Linked DNA regions of Homo sapiens. The protein of the gene in region 1 interacts with the protein of each later gene in a biochemical or structural test. Each region holds a gene or a part of one and is shown on either strand. Other genes may lie near its edges.

Region 1 (3,743 bases):
TTCAAGTGATTCTCCCGCCTCAGCCTCCTGAGTAGCTGGGATTACAGGCTCGCGCCACCACACCTGGCTAATTTTTGTGTTTTTAGTAGAGACAGGGTTTCACCATGTGGGTCAGGCTGGTCTCGAACTCCTGACCTCGTGATCCACCTGCCTTGGGCTCCCAAAGTGCTGGGATTACAGGCGTGAGCCACCACACCTGGCCTTTTTTTGTATTTTTAGTAGAGATGGGTTTTTGCCATGTTGGGTCAGGCTGATCTCGAACTCCTGGCCTCAAGTGATCCACCTGCCTTGGCCTCCCAAAGTGTTGGGATTACTGGCGTGAGCCACTGCGCCTACTTGCTTTTTTTTTTTTTCTCGAGGTAGAGTTTCACTCTGTCACCCAGGCTGGAGTGCAGTGGCGTGATCTCAGCTCACTGCAAGCTCCGCCTCCCGGGTTCACGCCATTGTCCTGCCTCACCCTCCCGAGTAGCTGGAACTAAGGCGCCAGCCACCATGCCCAGCTAATTTTTTGTACTTTTAGTACAGATGGGGTTTCACCGTGTTAGGATGGTCTCGATCTCCTGACCTCGTGATGCGCCTGCCTCGGCCTCCCAAAGTGTTGGGATTAAAGGCGTAAGCCACCGCACCCGGCCACCTACTTGCTTTCTTAGTCATGTGTCTCATTTATGTGTCCTAGCTGGGACCCCTGGAGGCCCTGCACTGGCCCACAGGCCAGGTCCTCAGGTCCTCTGAGGGGAGAAGAGACATTCCAATGGTTATCCCCCGCCTTCAGTTCCTGGCCTGTAATTTACCTCCTCCAAAGAGCCTCCCTGACAGACATATCTTGCCATAAACACCCAGCATGTTTCCCTACCTGCCTCTCTTTTTTTTTTTTTTTTTTTTTTTTTGAGATGGGTGCAGTGGCGTGATCTTGGCTCACTGTAACCTCTGCTGCCCAGGTTCAAGCGATTCTTCTGCTTCAGCCTCCCGAGTAGCTGGGATTACAGGTGCCTGCCACCGCGCCTGGCTAATTTTTTTGTATTTTTAGTAGAGACGGGGTTTTACCATCTTGGTCAGTCTGGTCTTAAACTCCTGACCTCGTGATCTCCCCAACCTCGGCCTCCCAAAGTGCTGGGATTACAGGCGTGAGCCACTGCGCCCAGCCCCCCACCTGCTTCTCACTCTGTCATTGCACTCTGAGTGTTTGCTCAGGGGAGTGGTTCTAAGTCTTTATCGGTCTGGGTAGAGGAGTGGAGTTGGCAGGAGTTGGGAGATGGCACAGAGCACAGTTCAAATAGACCATAGTAGGCGGGCCTCTGAATAATAACCCATAGTGCACTTGCAGCCTACAAAGCACTTTCTTTTTTCTTTTGTTATTATTATTATTATTTGAGACAGAGTCTCGCTCTGCCACCCAGGCTGGAGTGCAGTGGCACAATCTCGGCTCACTGCAACCTCCACCCACTGGGTTAAAGCAGTTCTCCTGCTTCAGCCTCCTGAGTGGCTGGGACTACAGGCGTGAACCACCACACCTAACTAATTTTTGTATTTTTAGTAGAGACGGAGTTTCACCAGAGTTTGAGGCCAGGCTGGTCTCGAACTTCTGACCTCAGGTGATCCACCTGCCTTGGCCTCCCAAAGTGCTGGGATTACTGGCGTGAGCCACCACGTCTGGCCTTCTTTTATTAATTTTTTAAATTAATAGAGATGGGGTTTTGCAATGTTGCCTAGGCTGGTCTCGAACTCCTGAACTCAAGCAATCCACCTGCCTCAGCCTCCCAAAGTGCTGGGATTACAGGCGTGAGGAATCACGCCCAGCCACAAAGCACTTTCACATTTTTTAATTTTATGTGATGTTCACACAGCCACTGGGAGTCAGGGCTAGGATTATCCCCTCATAAAGGTGAGGACACAGGCTAAGAGAGTCGAAGGCTGGCTAGACAAGGGGAGAGACACAGAGCTCCGCTGATCATCACTGGACTCTGGATTCCACCAAACCTTTGGAACCTTCCAGCCTCAGGCCTCCACAGCTTCACAGAAACTGGGCAAGTCTTAACTCTCTAAGCTTCTGTCTTCTCACCTAAGCATGTTTGGTACTCACCTCCCAGGGTGGTTAGGAGGATAATAAGGGAATGTCTCGGCCTACACGTAAGTGCACCATCAATGGTACCTAAAAACGTCAACAGTTCCAGACACTGTCTCCAGAGAAGGCTCTGTGGGGGATGCGGACATGTAGCGGCCAAGTTCTTGTTCTCCAGGGGCTCTGCAGGTCCCTTGCAGAGGAGGCATTCAATCCTGCCGGCTGTGGCAGGACACTTTCCTATCCAAGGGATTGGCTTCCTCCGATGTAGAACAGACACTATGAAATAGCTACCAACCCAGGGGTTGCCAGGAGGCCCCATGAAGGTCTTGCACTAATAATACTTCTTGCTTTTTTTTTTTTTCTTTTGAGAAAAAAAGCCTGTCGCCCAGGCTGGAGTGCAGTGGCGTGATCTCGGCTCACTGCGACCTCTCCCTCCTGGGTTCAAACGATTCTTCTGCCTCAGCCTCCCGAGTAACTGGGACTATAGGCACGTGCCACTATGCCCAGCTAATTTTTGTGTTTTGAGTAGAGACAGGGTTTCACCATGTTGGCCAGGATGGTCTCGATCTCCTGACCTTGTGATGTAACTAGTATTTCTTATGCCCTTATTTTGTGCTAGGCACAGGGCCTCACCCATTATTGGCACTCGGTAAGGATTCGTGGGATTAATGAGAAGTTAACCTAAATCTTCACCAAAGGCCCCTGAGCTTCCCCTCGATTCACATACAAGGGACTGGGGCTCTGAGAGGTGGGCTGTGATGCGCCCCTGGAAGACCCACGAGTGGGCCTGCAGAGCTGATGGGGAGGGTTCAGGCAGGGCCAGGGGCTTAGAGGAGCTGAGATTAACGTCGCCCCCCTACCCACTGACCCTCTGCAGGCGCTGGGGCTGTGGAGATCCGGAGTCGCCACAGCTCCTACCCCGCGGGGACGGAGGACGACGAAGGGATGGGGGAGGAGCCCAGCCCCTTTCGGGGCCGCTCGCGCTCGGCGCCCCCCAACCTCTGGGCAGCACAGCGCTATGGCCGCGAGCTCCGGAGGATGAGTGACGAGTTTGTGGACTCCTTTAAGGTGAGCGCCAGTCCCCAGCGTGCCAGGACCTGAAGTACCAGGCCGCCCCCCGCCGGTCTGTCCCTGCCTTGTCCCAAGGCACGCCCGGATCTGGAGTCCCACGACCCCTCCCCAAAGCCGTCCTGTTCCTTCCTAGCTCCAGAGCATTCTGGGATTTGTAGTCACAAGACTTCCCCGCCCCCACTCCCCAGCTCTTCCCCCGCCTGGTGTGTGTGTGTGTGTGTGTGTGTGAGTCACAGGGCATGCTGGGATCTGTAGTCTAGATCCCACTCCAGGCGTGTGTGTGTGTGTGTGTGTGTGTGTGTGTGTGTGTGTGAGAGTCACAGGGCATGCTGGGATCTGTAGTCTAGATCCCACTCCAGGCGTGTGTGTGTGTGTGTGTGTGTGTGTGTGTGTGTGTGTGTGAGTCACAGGGCATGCTGGGATCTGTAGTCTAGATCCCACTCCAGGTGTGTGTGTGTGTGTGTGTGTGTGTGAGAGAGTCACAGGGCATGCTGGGATCTGTAGTCTAGATCCCACTCCAGGTGTGTGTGTGTGTGTGTGTGTGTGTGTCAGTCACAGGGCATGCTGGGATCTGTAGTCTAGATCCCACTCCAGGCGTGTGTGTGTGTGT
Region 2 (3,743 bases), on another chromosome or scaffold:
AGAGCGAGGTGCCCACCAGGGGCTGGCCTTAGGTTCCATCCCCATGTGCTGCATCGGCCCCTCCCCTCCAAGTAGCTCTGCCCTCCTTTCTTTGAGGCCTGCGGTCCTCCGACTCCCTTGAACTTGCTGGACCCCCAGGTTCTGGTCCAGGGTCTGGGAGGAGGTTAAATGCAGGGAATCCGTCCCCAGGCTGGGCAGGGAAGGACTCCCACCCTTGGTGCCTGCACGTATAAGGGGAGGTGGGGTCAGTCTGGCACCCTGGCTGCTAGGTGGTCTGTGGCCAGCAAACCGTGCCCTGAAGCTTCTAGTTGGGAGGGGCAGAGGCCTTGCCCTGCAAAGCCCCAGGCTGAGGGGCTGGGGTTGGGGTGGGGTTTACCAGGACCTGGTTCCTGTAAGCCGAGGTCTCCTTCCCTGGCTCTTCCAGCCTCAAGCCAGCAGTAGCAGGGCAGCCTGATAGAGTAGGGCACCCCAGGGGTGAGGGGAGACCAGGAAGGCAGACACCCCTGTCTCCTGACAGCCTCGTAACCATGCAGGAGACTCACTGTGACTTGTCCCACACCCTCCCCAGTGTCTCCTCGGTTGGGGCTGGGGGCTTCAGGGATCAGGGAGAGGCTGGGTGCCAGCAGCGTGCCTGGTGGCACCTGGGACAGGGCCTTGCTGGGGGTGGGTGCTGTGGGTGTGCTCGCCAGGCCGAGGCATTGGGAAGGAACGAGGTGGGGAGCTCTCTGGAGAGGCACACGGGTGGGTACCAGCTGGAGGTGTTGCCTGAGCAGCTGGCAAGGCTGGGGCCTTCAGATTAGGCCATAGGTGAGTGGCCTGGAGCGCCTGGCCAAGGAGCAGAGCTGGGCAGGGGCCAGGGGCTGTGCTGGGCCTCTGTCCGGGGCTTTTCTCCGGGGAACGGTTCCGGGGCAGTGGGCTCGAGACTCTGGCCCTGGGGATTGCATACTGGGGCAGATCGGACCATCCAGGAGCGAGTGGGAGGTGGGTGTGCCGGGGCTTCACACCGGTTTCCACTTCTCTGGCCTGTGTTGACACAGGCCACCCTCCCCACCAGGCTGGTCCCGAGCCCCCTCCTGGCCCCCAGGCCTGGAAGACAGCTTCCTTGCTGCCTGGCCAGGCCCCCTTGTGGTTGCCAGGGCCTCGATGCTGGAATGTCAGAGGCCCCCCACTGGCCCCTCAGCCTCCTCCTGCTTTGCACAGGCTGGGCCAGAGCCTGCCACGGAGCCCCAGCGGCTACACACTCCACTCACTCACACCTCTCAGGGCCCCGCACGTTCCCACAGCCCTCAGGGTGTACGTGCTGTAGGTGTGGCTGTGCCCCAGGTATGTGTTCCCCAGGTGTGCTTGTGCCCCAGGTGTGGCTGTGCCCCAGGTGTGCGTGTGCCCCAGGTGTTCGTGTGCCCCAGATGTGGCTAGGTGTCTAGATGTGTTCTAGATGTCTGTGTATTCCAGTGTGGCTGTGTCCCAGGTGTGCGTGTGCCCCAGGTGTGTGCCTCAGGTGTGCGTGTGCCCCAGGTGTGGCTTTGCCTCCAGTGTGTGTGTGCCCCAGATGTATGTGTGCCCCAGGTGTGGCTGTGCCCCAGGTGTGCCTGTGCCCCAGGTGTGGCTGTGCCCCAGGTGTGCCTGTGCCCCAGGTGTGGGTGTGCCCCAGGTGTGGGTGTGCTCCAGGTGGCTGTATTTCCCAGGTACTCAGGGTGAGGTTGGGAAAAAAGCAGGACATTTCTACACTAGGTGGGACAAGCAGGTTTCTGGGGTGCCCCCCTCATGCCAGCCCCTCTGTGGGATCTCCATACCCCTCATCCTCTGAGGCCTGGCGCACGGCGGGGCTCAGAGACTGAAGGAAGGACTGTAGGAGTGGACGATGGTGGGGGTTTGACCTGACGCCGGGCCAGATGCCCTGTGTGGCTGCCTCAGCCTGGAGTAGAGTGTCTGAGCTGGAACAGGGGTCCTAGCCCCACTCTGTGAGGCGAGAAACTGAGGCTTGGAGAGAGGAAGAGATGGGGCTTCCCAGGACCTGGTGGGTGGTATGCAAGGGGAGCTGGCTGGTGCAGCGGGGGCTGTGGTGAGGGCCCTGGGAGGGGCAGGGGGATGCACGCAGACAGAGGCTCTGCCTGCCCGCAGAGTGCCAGCTGATGAAGACGGAGCGGCCCCGGCCCAACACCTTCATCATCCGCTGCCTGCAGTGGACCACTGTCATCGAACGCACCTTCCATGTGGAGACTCCTGAGGAGCGGTACGTGGGCTGTGGCGGCCAGGCCAGGCACTTGGGCAGCCCCAGCGCTTAGGAGGGACACGGGGATGGCGGGGTGCTGGCACCTCTGCCTGTAGCCATCCTCACTCCCCAGTGCTCCCAGGCCCTCCTCAGAGCCCAGTTTGGAAACTGGCCCAGTCCTGCCTGTGGGGTTTGGGTGGGGAAACTGAGGCTGGAGATAAAAACTGGCTAGGGACCGGGTGCAGTGGCTCACGTCTATAATCTCGGCACTTTGGGAGGCCGAGGTGCGCAGATCACTTGAGACCAGGAGTTTGAGACTAGCCTGCCAACATGGTGAAACCCCCGTCTCTACTAAAAATATAAAACTTAGCTGGGTGTGGTGGTGCACACCTGTAATCCCGGCTACTTGGGAGGCTGAGGCACAAGAATCGCTTGAACCCGAGAGGCAGAGGCTGCAGGAGCCGAGATTTTACCACTGCACTCCAGCCAGGGCGATAGAGCAAGACTCCGTCTCAAAAAAAGAAAAACCCGGTGGAGAGGGCCAGTCCTCCTTGGGGGGCGGAGTCCTGCTTGGGAGGCGGAGTCCTGCTTGGGGGGGGCGGAGTCCTGCTGGGGGGCGGAGTCCTGCTGGGGGTTGGAGTCCGGTTGTGGGGACAGAGTCCTGCTGGGGGGCTAAGCCTGGGTGTCCCCCACGTCCAAGAGGGCTTCGTGACCCTGAGTGTATGTGGCCAGACCAGGTCAAGTGGTGGCCTCCTCAGGGCTGTCTCTGGGAACCCCGACAGCTGTGGAACCACGCTTGTGAGGCTGGCGGGTGGGTGAAAGACGTGGGGTGGAGCTCCTGATCTGGTACAGGCCTGCAGCCTCACCTGACCTCCTGCAGGGAGGAGTGGACAACCGCCATCCAGACTGTGGCTGACGGCCTCAAGAAGCAGGAGGAGGAGGAGATGGACTTCCGGTCGGGCTCACCCAGTGACAACTCAGGGGCTGAAGAGATGGAGGTGTCCCTGGCCAAGCCCAAGCACCGCGTGGTGAGGCCTGTCCCCACTTCTGCCTGTGCCTGGGGCTGCCTTGGACTGTGGAGGGCTGGGTGGGTCATGGGGTCCCAGCTCGGCCCAGGAGACACTCAGCACTCCACGGCATCTCCACCTAGGCCGGTTTTCCATGTAGGGCGCAGCTGCTTCCCAGGTGGGTCCTCTTCCCCATGTCAGAGGAAAACTGGGGTTGCTGAGCCCTGCCAGGCTTGGGCAATGTTACCCCACCCTTCCCTGAACCCCATGCTCTGAGCTGGGGCCGCAGCCATGTGTTCCCTGTAAGCCTGGACTCCCCGCTGAGCCCAGTAGGCCACCAGGTGTGAAGTGGACGCCTCTCCTGGCTCTGCCTCCGACTCTGGGGCCCCTCATGCCACCCCACGCATGCCGACCAGCTGGGCACTGTTGGCAGCGCCGCTTGCTGACCCTGGTGCCTGCCCATAGACCATGAACGAGTTTGAGTACCTGAAGCTGCTGGGCAAGGGCACTTTCGGCAAGGTGAT
Region 3 (3,743 bases), on another chromosome or scaffold:
ATGTTACAATCAAGCTGGCCCAGGAGTTTGAGATCAGTCTGGGCAACATAATGAGATCCCTATCTCTATAAAAAATGAATTTAACCAAGCATGGTGCAGTACACCTCTAGTCCCAGCTACCAGGGAGGCTGAAGTGGGAAGATTGCTTGAGCCTAGACGGTGGAAGCTGAAGTGAACTGTGCTTGTACCACTGCACTCCAGTTTAGGCCATGGAGTGAGAACCTTGTATCACAAACAAACAAATAAACCAGGAGTGCAAATGAAGACTTGGACTAGGTTATTCTCTAAAGAAGAGGGCAACCTTGCTGGTGGCAGCCAGAATGATCAGGCTAAGAGCAAAAATGAAATGAGGATGGTTGAAAGGATACAGCCATAAAGGAGTGTAATAGGCTGTGTGTTTAGAATAGAGGAGAGAATTGAGTATGGACTTGTAAATGGTGTGGATTCAGACTATGAGAACCATATTGACTATGTGAAGGCAAGAGGTGATCTTGAAGCGATAGTGTCAAAGTTACAGCATGAGATGGCTGTGCTAGCTTCTTACATATCAGCCTATGGCTTTGGGAAAATCACTTAACCTCTCCAAACCTCAATTTCCTCATTCATAGAATGAGGATAAAACAGCATAAGGACTGGTGAGAGGAAAAAATACACATGTAAAAAAAGCACAGCATCTAATAACTCCTCAAAATATGTTAGTTTTTACCTTTTTTTTTTTTTGAGATAGAGTCTCGTTCTATCACCCAGTCTGGAGTGCAGTGGCATGATCTCAGCCTCCTGGGTTCAAGTGATTCTCATGCCTCAGCCTCCTGAGCAGCTGGGATTACAGGCTGGCTAATTTTTGTATTTTACGTCTGGCTAATTTTTGTATTTTTAGTAGAGATGGGGTTTTGCCATGTTGGTCAGGCTGGTCTCGAACTCCTGGCCTCAAGTGATCCACCCGCCTTGGCCTCCCAAAGTGTTGGGATTACAGGTATGAGCCACCGAACCCAGCTAGTTGTTACTGTTATTGCTGCAGAAAAGACCTTGCTTCTCCAGTGACCATAAGGGAAGATGGTAATACAGAGGCTTGGATTGGAGGTAGAAGCAAAGGGAGCTAGCAGAATAGGAGAATTAGGTTGCCTCTTTCTGGCCTTTGGTTGGGGCACTCTTTAAAAAAGTGCCAGATCCAAGAGCCCAGGGGGCTGGCTGTGAGTGCCCTCATGTGGATCAGCTATGGTCAGACTGCTTCACGCCTGTGACCTGCCCTGTATAAATATACTGCCATGTATAAATAATGGCCCCATATATATGTAATCTGGAAGGATAAACATCAAGCTTAACACTGGCAACCTGCAGGGAGGGAAGTGGAATTGGGTGTGTATGTGTGTGTGTGTTTGAGAACCTGTATTTTATTACTCCGCACGTCTTTATTGTTTGATTTTTTTCATAATGAGAATGAGTTTGTGTGTTGGGTAAAAAAAAGAAAAAGAAAAAAACCCCACTAAAATCAATCTAATTACAAAAGAAGATGAATTAAAGAAAAGTACCGAGAGAAACTGCTTGTGATCCAAGTCCTGGCTCCCTAATGCCTGGCTGAAGCCCAGCCCACAAAGAGAACACTGGGTTAAAGGTCCTGGAGAAAAGATGGGAAAGGTTTGGTGTCTATGTGGTGTCTGCTAGCCCCATAAGGGTAAGGCACCTGGTAGACGGTTCCCAGCTTAATGGGAACTGCTCCTGTTTTCCAGGCACACAGTTCAGGGCTGGAAAAGTTCAACAAGTGCATGGAACATCGGAAACCTCCTGAAAATGCTAAATTTGCCCCGAGATGTCCCGAAGTCCGGCATATTTCTCTGGGCAGCCTAGAGGCTCAGGAGCCCAGCCCAGCCCAGCCCACCGTGCCCTCTCAGCCAGCCCTTCTTTGCCTTCAGCAGCCCTCCCTCTTCCTGAGTAGTGGCCCTTTGCAGGCCTGCGTCCCAGCCCCGCCCCTCTCTCTGGACGCATCTCTGGGCCCCATCATCACCCGGCGCCGGGCCCTCCCTCTGCCCCCCCCTTTCTCCTCCCTCCTTCCTTCCCTCCCTTCCTCCCTCTCTCCCTCCCTCCCAGCTCCTGCACCAGGAAACGGCCCGGATCCCGGCAGCGGCCTGACCCGTGAGATCCCTAACCTGGCAGGCGGGCGGGGTTGGAGACTGGCTGAGGTGGGGGTAAGGGAGGAGCTGGGCCTTTGGGCTGCACTAGGGGGAACCGGGAATAGAGATGGTGTCGGCAGGAAGCCCTTGGCCTTGGGTTTCCCGGGAGGACAGTCATTAAACATGGATTCGGCCACACAGCTGGTAGAGCGTTGGGGGCAGGGGCCTAGGCCCAGAGCTGCAACCCTAGCCCTTCCCAGGCCAGAACCTGATCCCTGGCCTTCCCCTCCTGGTTCTGATCTCCCCCTCCCCTTTCCAGGGCTCCACGCTGGCCAGGAGGATGAAAGGCCCCAGCTGGGGGCTCCTTGCCACCAGTGCTGTGTCTTAAGAGCTGCCATCCCGGCTGGGTGAGTGTCTCCTTCCTTTCTCTGTCTGGAGTAACCCATTGCGTCTCCCACCTTTCTCTTCAGCCCATCTGCTCCCCCTCATCTTGTGTCTCTGCCAACATCTTTACATCTTGCATTTGGGGAGGTCCTAAGACCCTTCCTCTAGCCAAGAAGGTGTGGACTAAGGAGACCCGGGGGTGGGGGTGTTGTAGGGGTGTCATTGAGCTGACGTTGTCTTATTGTGAAAAGAATCTAAAGTATCCTAAACAGAAAATTTACTTGTTTTACATTTAATTTGGCATATTAGGAATGTAATGGCCAGCCACTCACAGCCTAGTCTCATATCATGACTTAATTCCCTTGTTCTTGCCTCTCCCTGTCCAGTGAGTCCTGAGCATTTCCTCTCTCCTCCTCATCTCACTGGGTTGGTCAAACCAGAAGTGCTCCTTCTGATTCTCTCTTCATATATTCATGCCAGTCTTTCATCCTTGCCTCTTATAGCCGCCCGGATGGCGACCCCAGCCTCGGCCCCAGACACACGGGCTCTGGTGGCAGACTTTGTAGGTTATAAGCTGAGGCAGAAGGGTTATGTCTGTGGAGCTGGCCCCGGGGAGGGCCCAGCAGCTGACCCGCTGCACCAAGCCATGCGGGCAGCTGGAGATGAGTTCGAGACCCGCTTCCGGCGCACCTTCTCTGATCTGGCGGCTCAGCTGCATGTGACCCCAGGCTCAGCCCAACAACGCTTCACCCAGGTCTCCGATGAACTTTTTCAAGGGGGCCCCAACTGGGGCCGCCTTGTAGCCTTCTTTGTCTTTGGGGCTGCACTGTGTGCTGAGAGTGTCAACAAGGAGATGGAACCACTGGTGGGACAAGTGCAGGAGTGGATGGTGGCCTACCTGGAGACGCAGCTGGCTGACTGGATCCACAGCAGTGGGGGCTGGGTAAGAAGCTTCTCAATTGCCGCTCTGCACATCCTTCTGCAAAGCTGGTCTCCAGGGGGAAGATGGGGGCTCTGATTGGAGGCTGAGGCAGCTATGTTGGGAATGAGGTACGGGGCTGAGTCTCCCCGTCTGGATGGAATTAGATTGAGAGATGCCTGGACTCTGCACTCCAGGGCTGCCATGCAGTCAACACTGGATGGGCTCATGGTCCCAAGCAGAGGACAGAATACACACCCAAGGAGTGCCTGCAGGGGAATGTTGTCAGGGACTTTTTACATCTGAGTCATGGCGTGGGAGGTGGGGAGGAC

Evidence for each region.
Region 2: of the proteins of BAD (region 1) and AKT1, one has a biochemical effect on the other in vitro, tested with the Homo sapiens proteins (6 studies listed by BioGRID, with this or other methods).
Region 3: the proteins of BAD (region 1) and BCL2L2 interact in a biophysical measurement, tested with the Homo sapiens proteins (4 studies listed by BioGRID and IntAct, with this or other methods).

What each region holds. Positions count from the first base shown.
Region 1 is NC_000011.10:64,271,000-64,274,742, reverse strand, and holds part of BAD (bcl2-associated agonist of cell death), read left to right. Parts: intron 1-2,939; coding exon 2,940-3,130; intron 3,131-3,743. UniProt on the Homo sapiens protein: Promotes cell death. Successfully competes for the binding to Bcl-X(L), Bcl-2 and Bcl-W, thereby affecting the level of heterodimerization of these proteins with BAX. Can reverse the death repressor activity of Bcl-X(L), but not that of Bcl-2.
Region 2 is NC_000014.9:104,775,149-104,778,891, reverse strand, and holds part of AKT1 (RAC-alpha serine/threonine-protein kinase), read left to right. Parts: intron 1-2,121; coding exon 2,122-2,233; intron 2,234-3,092; coding exon 3,093-3,240; intron 3,241-3,684; coding exon 3,685-3,743. UniProt on the Homo sapiens protein: AKT1 is one of 3 closely related serine/threonine-protein kinases (AKT1, AKT2 and AKT3) called the AKT kinase, and which regulate many processes including metabolism, proliferation, cell survival, growth and angiogenesis.
Region 3 is NC_000014.9:23,304,765-23,308,507, forward strand, and holds the start of BCL2L2 (bcl-2-like protein 2), read left to right. Parts: upstream 1-2,068; 5' UTR 2,069-2,130; exon of another isoform or gene 2,131-2,183; intron 2,184-2,427; 5' UTR 2,428-2,515; intron 2,516-2,995; 5' UTR 2,996-3,003; coding exon 3,004-3,435; intron 3,436-3,743. Other genes in the region: BCL2L2-PABPN1 protein, read left to right, coding at 3,004-3,435. UniProt on the Homo sapiens protein: Promotes cell survival. Blocks dexamethasone-induced apoptosis. Mediates survival of postmitotic Sertoli cells by suppressing death-promoting activity of BAX.